Linked DNA regions of Homo sapiens. The protein of the gene in region 1 interacts with the protein of each later gene in a pairwise test. Each region holds a gene or a part of one and is shown on either strand. Other genes may lie near its edges.

Evidence for each region.
Region 2: the proteins of ETV1 (region 1) and NFE2L2 interact in binary tests that used the Homo sapiens proteins (3 or more experiments, as listed by UniProt).

Annotation. Positions count from the first base shown.
Region 1 is NC_000007.14:13,890,454-13,893,257, reverse strand, and holds the end of ETV1 (ETS translocation variant 1), read left to right. Parts: 3' UTR 1-2,029; downstream 2,030-2,804. UniProt on the Homo sapiens protein: Transcriptional activator that binds to DNA sequences containing the consensus pentanucleotide 5'-CGGA[AT]-3'. Required for olfactory dopaminergic neuron differentiation; may directly activate expression of tyrosine hydroxylase (TH).
Region 2 is NC_000002.12:177,236,913-177,240,747, reverse strand, and holds part of NFE2L2 (nuclear factor erythroid 2-related factor 2), read left to right. Parts: intron 1-3,835.

The DNA.
Region 1 (2,804 bases):
TTGAATTTCTCATTGAATTGGCTACTCAAACATAGAAATCATTTGTTAATGATGTAATGTCTTCTCTCAGCTTTTATCTTCACTGCTGTTTGCTGTCTCTTGATGATGACATGTTAATACCCAATAGATTAATTGCAACAAACACTTATACTCAAATAACTAAGTAAAAATAATTTTTCTTGTTATGTCCATGAAAAGTGCTTCAGAATAAAAATCCACAAGACTGACAGTGCAGAACATTTTTCTCAAATCATGGGCGGATCTTGGAGGTCTAGTTTCCCGTAGATGCTGTAACCAATTACCACAACTTCAGTAATTTACACAAATTTATCTTATAGTTCTGGAGGCAGAAGTTCAAAAGAAGCCTTAAGAGACTAAAACCAAGATGTCCTTAGGTCTGGTTCCTTCTGGAGGCTCCAGGGGAGATTCTTCCAGCTTTCACTTCTAGAGTCTGCTGACATTCCTTGGCTCCTGGCTACATCACTTCAATCTCTGCTTCCATGGTCACATACTCTTCTACTATAGTCAAATTTCCTTCCTGCCTCTTATAAGGATGCTTGTGATTACATTTAGGGGATGCTCAGATAATCCAGGACAATCTCTCCATCTCAAGATCCTTAACTTAATGACGTGTGCCAAGTCCCTTTGGCTAGATAATTATTCATAGGTCCCAGGGATTAGGACATGGATGTAAGGGGTGAGGGCAGGGCTGTTATTCAGAACACCGCACGGAGGAGGAAGACTGTGTAGCAAAGACTCTAATTGATTTACTCAGGAACAGTGGAGTTCTGCTGAGGGATCTAGGATTTGAAAGTACTAGAGTTTGCTTTTATTTACCACTGAGATATTTTCCCCTTATTCTGCATAAATAATTTTGAAAACTTTCTATATTAAATTTCAACTATTCCACTAAAATGTCTGGTAATCACATCAAGCCTTTAGATTATTCAAATCCTTCCCCAGCCCCCAGGAAAACACTAAGTCATGAAACAGAAAAACAGAAGGTATGATAATAATAGTAATAACAGTTAAATCAGTGGTCTAATCCAGATTTTATTTTTTAATACATTTCTTTTGGTGTTAATATGGGTTACTATGTGATCTTATCATTTGCTAGTGATTATTACTTATTAGGTAAGAACAATGTGTAAAATATGTCTATTACTCAAAAGAACAATTGCAAAATGAGTCAACTTATCTTTATATAACCAGGAAAGAAATATATTGCCAGAAGCTACAGAATTTTGCCAGATGATAGGGATTTCTAAAATGAGCCACTTTGTCTATCATGCAGCCTTTTCAGAGCTTGTAATGAGAAAACATTACAGAGGAGAAGGTCATTTGGATGTTTGTTACTTGGAATCCTAGAAAACAAAAACTAAAATTTAAAAATAAGAAGTGAGTAAGCTATTTTCCATTTGCGATTTGGTATGGAGAAGAGAGGAAATAGAATTATTAAAAAAATACAAATTGGGTAAAAGTGATGGTGGAAAAAATATAAAGAAGGCAAATGTACATATTAAGCAATTCTACTAAGAATTGGAAAAATCAAGTTTCAAAAAGATGGTAATAGTTGGGCATGATACTAGAAAATTTCACCCAGTTTATTCAGAGCTCAACTAGTACTTTTAGGACTTCTTTTTTTATATACATGAGACTCACTTTGACATACTTAAAAAAAAAACAGTTTATGGAAAGTACAGTTTAAGAGGAGAATTTGATTAGACTAAGTGGATATCTTTATAGAAATATTAATGATTTCAGAATTTTCAGTTACAAGTGTATATACCGTGGCTATTGTTTATGGATTCATATGTAAGGTAGGGTCTTTTTTGCATATAGACTCCAGTATTAGTTACTTTCATTCTAAAATTATATTTATGCTTCTATGGGGAAGAAAATTTTTAATTCACTTGGTTGTATTAAAATTATACTTACGGTTTGAGAAAACATGCTATGAAAATCATGATTATAGCAAATTAAATATGCTCAAAATTTAAATCTAAAATAAAAGCCCAGAAACTGAAAATATTGGACTGTCGTGATCACTCTGAAAGGTAGCACATCTAAAACTGATAAACGTCATCTAAATTTTTGACTGTCTTCTAATCATCGTGTCATTTTTAATAGTTTATGACCACAGCACTCAAGTAATGTGTTTGCACTACTTTGCCATATATTATTCTTTTAGATAATTTAGATACCAGGACACCTGATAAATCCTTTTTGAGTTCTACGTTCTAATCTCTGTAAATATCTTGTTTCACATAAATCCTTCAATAAATGTATCATGGAGAAATTTGGGGAAGGGAACTAACTAAATTATTTCAGTGACTCCCACATGCCAGACAGCACAGATATGTGAATTATGTTACTGCCTCCAAATTGCTTGGTTTTGTCTGGTGAGAAACTGAAGCTAATGGCAAAACCAGTATGTCTTGGTGTCAAGATGTCGTGGTCACAGGCAAATCATGAACCCTACCTTTTGGGGAACTTGGACCTAGCTACTTTTCTGATTTAATTTCTAATGACAAAAATATCTATAATAATAACAGATTCTGCTGAAACACGGTGTTATTTAATTTTTTTTCTTTTTTGAATATTCCTTGTAGAAAAATCTAAAAAGAAATCAAGCACTATTTAAACAACAGCAACAATAAACTGAGTTGTTTTTTAAGTGTTTTTAAGCATTCAGAAATCAAACTGATTGAAGTACCTCTTTGTTTCTTTCCATTGGAGATGGGTACAGCTTAATGAAGAAACAGAAATACTAATCAAACTCTTCAGAAAGTTATATACACTGT
Region 2 (3,835 bases), on another chromosome or scaffold:
TCTTCTTTGTTTATCCTGGTACAAAGATGTTTGTTTTAAAGTGGTATGAGTTAATTGTCCAACTTCAGATTTCCCTAAAATGTGTAACAGATTACCCAGTTGGCAAATGATGATATATATTTTTTAAACATGAATATTTCTGTTAGGCCAGATGGTGATTTAACATGAATTGTCCAACATTTGTGTTTCTTATCAAATTGTCTTCTTTTGTCTAAGCCAAGCTAGCAACATAATTTGGAACACACTCAGGAATCACTAAAGGACAAGAGCAAAAAAAATTCAGACACCAAGTGGCAGACGGCATTTGCTCCATATGCCATGCAAAGGCTCCTGGCCAGTGCTCGCATGGCCCTTGGGAAGCTTTCTCACCCGTTGTAAGAAAGTATCTGTGCAGTGCTGTGCAACCCATCTACCTGCTTTCCTCTCTCTACCCAAACCCTACTTATCTAACACTTTGTACTGTGGCCTTCCTCCATGGGGGACTTGCACTTCCTCAAAGCCCTGGATTTCTGTGCAGAAGAGCAGTTTTAGTTCTTCCTTAGGCACTTCCCTTTCCTCCTGTCCAGTGTCATGTTCTTGTTTGTTATGGGCTCCACCCAGACGATTATTTCCTCTTAGATGATGTGTGAGCCTTGCAGAGAGCTGGGTCATTTGTGGAATAAATCATGTGCCCAGTCACACGGCTCCTTACAGGAAATGGTTGGTGCATATTAGCTTAGCACAAAATACAGTAGTGAGCTTGTGGTCCCCAACAGTGAGTCTTCAGTTAACTTCTGCTGTTTTTTTTTTTTTTTTTTTAACATAAAGCTTTGAATGTTTCATACAGTATCAAATCTCTGCAGGATTTTGCCTGCTGAAACAGATGTGAAAATCTGAGTAGCACAGAGTATGACATTAAGGCCATAACAATAAACCTATTGTTGCTGCATTCTAAATTTGATCAAGATGTCTGTTTTTGGGAATCCAAAATAGTTGCTTCAAATTTAGCTTTTTTCTTTTATGAAGCAGTTTTGTTTTGTTTTGTTTTGAGACCTCTCATAGCAAGAAAAAACATTACATAAACTTTTTTTTGAGACAAGGTCTCACTTTGTTACCCAGGCTGGAGTGCAGTGGCACGATCTTGGCTCACTGCAGCCTCGACCTCCTGGGCTCAAGCAGTCCTCCCACCTTAGTCCCCCACGTAGCTGGGACTACAGGCACATGCCACCACGCCCGGCTAATTTTTGTATTTTTAGTAGAGACAGGGTTTCACCATGTTGCCCAGGCTGGTCTCGAACTCCTGAGCACAAGCGATCTGCCCGCCTCGGCCTCCCAAAGTGCTAAGATTATAGGCGTGAGCCACCATGCCTGGCCACATAAATATAAACTTAAAAATACACAGGAAAACCTTTCAGAACACTTTGAAACCTATTTTGGTCCTATTACGATTGCACTGAATGTCCCCCAGCCTAATGAAGAGCAATTAGATGTCATTTGGTGGCATTCTTGGTGGAGACAGTAAGCTAGGGCCGCAGGAGCTGCTTAGTCTCCCAGGGTCCAGCATTGTTTCAGGTAACGTGAACAGGATGCTCAAGAGCTAGTCTAAATAATGCTTCATGTCTTATTTTTCCTGTTTGTTGATAAGGATTCATAAAGATGTCTTTTTCTGGTCATGTCAAGGGAAATTCAAATAAAAAACATTGAATTGGTTTGGAGCTGTCCATTGAAGGGTACTCACAGCAGGAATTGAGTGGCAATTGAATGTGTGTGTGTGTATGTTTGTAAACATTTATATTAGAGTGTATGCAAATGTATATGGGCGTGCCCACTGCCATCACCATTACCCCCACCAACAGTAACAAAACCACCATCAAGAGCAATATCCACTAAAACTTCTAATTTGCTTATTAATTTGCTTTATTATTTGTAAATAATTCAGAATCTCTGAGATCAAAATCCTTTTTTATTACAACATGTTAATAGTAGTCTAATTCAGACCTGCCCTGAGGAAGAACCAAGCAATGAAGCTGTCCATGATTTTAGAAGTTAATTGGCTCATTCTTTCTGACCATCTAGGTAGTCCCAACATTATTTTAGGCTCCCCCTAGTTAGGTCCACAACCTCATTATTATCCATTGGCCTGGACTTTGGTCTCGCTTATACAGCAAGTAGTAGAGCCTATCACTGTCAACATGTAAACATTTGCATATTTTACATTTATAGAGAGATACTTTTCACGTGCCTCATTTGATCCACTAACATCTGTATGCTTGGGTAGGATGGAATAATTAAACAATGTATAGCTAAAGCCATCCAAACCCCTCAAATATTATCATCTGATGGGAAGGAAAAGGGGGGGAAAGGAAATTAAATAGTTATTTCAATTCTTGGCATGATTGACACTGACAATTATAAATTCCATTCAATATTTTCTTCCAGCTCATGAGGGTTGGTTGTAAGGATACTTTGCAAGTCAGATTTATGAGCAGAAGATGTTTGCAACCTAAATTGCTTCAGTTGCATGAAAAAGTCACAACCTTTTACTGATTTTTATCCTGGGATCTCCTTAACAAGAAAAAACCTCAGGCCCAGGAAGTCTAGGGTGAGGCAGGGATGTGTCAAAGTACACTTTTCCCCACGTACAGGGACAAGTATTTGAGTTTCTTTGATTGACTTTGCAAAGAGCTTTGCACACTTTGCACATCACTTCTTGAGATGGGTGGGAACATGGACTGCCTATTTTACAGAGTTCAATTAAGATCGCAGGATCATGCATTCCTTTCATTTTTGGTGCTAGTACCTAGAAGATGGGAACATATTGAACACTTAATACCTTGCTTGGGCAGATAGCTCCAGTTTGCAGAAAGTCTAGACAGGATACCCTGCTATGTATCTAGATTTACTGAGAAGAAGCGGCCCAAGCTAATCAGAATTTTAAAGTAGGTTTCTCAGCTGGGCGTGGTGGCTCACACCTGTAATCCCAGCACTTTGGGAGGCCGAGGCAGGCAGATCACTTGAGGTCAGGGGTTCGAGACCAGCCTGGCCAACATGGCGAAATCCTGTCTCTACTAAAAATAGAAAAATTAGCCGGGCATGGTGGCACGCACCTGTAATCCCAGCTATTCAGGAGGCTGAGGTGAGAGAACTGCTTGAACCCTGGAGGCGGAAGTTGCAGTGAGCTGAGATTGTGCCACTGCACTCCAGCCTGGGCGACAGAGCGAGACTCCGTCTCAAAAAAAAATAAAATAAAGTAGGTTTCTCTATACCTTTGAATTTTCTGTCTCCCATGATAACCTTTGGGTAAACATGTCCATCAGAATGGAAACAAATCATTTTTTAAAATAGAAATTATTCTCATACCTATTTTAGTGGGAATCCCCCTGAGAAGATAGCCATGTATAGTCGACTGAATGCTCTGTGGTTGCTATTTTGTTGCTCTTGGCCAGGAAACTGATCTAGGTGACCTACAGACTTAATCTGACCTGCAGACTGGCCGCTTCATACTACCAAGATTCCAAAGCCAAGTGTATATACAGTCGGCCCATGCAGCCTCTGGTTCCATGATGCAACCAATGGCAGATTGGTTCAAAAATATTTGGAAAAAGGCCAAGCACAGTGGAGTGGTTCATGCCTGTAATCCTAGCACTTTGGGAAGCTGAGGCAGGAAAATCAATGGAGCCCGGGAATTCAAGACCAGCCTGGGCAAAATGGCAAGACGCCATCTCTACAAAAAGTAATTAGCTGGGCTTGGTGGCATGTGCCTGTAGTCCCAGCTACTTGGGAGGCTGAGGTGGGAGGATCACTTGAGCCCAGGTGAAGGCTGCAGTGAGCCATGATTGCATCACCACACTCCAGC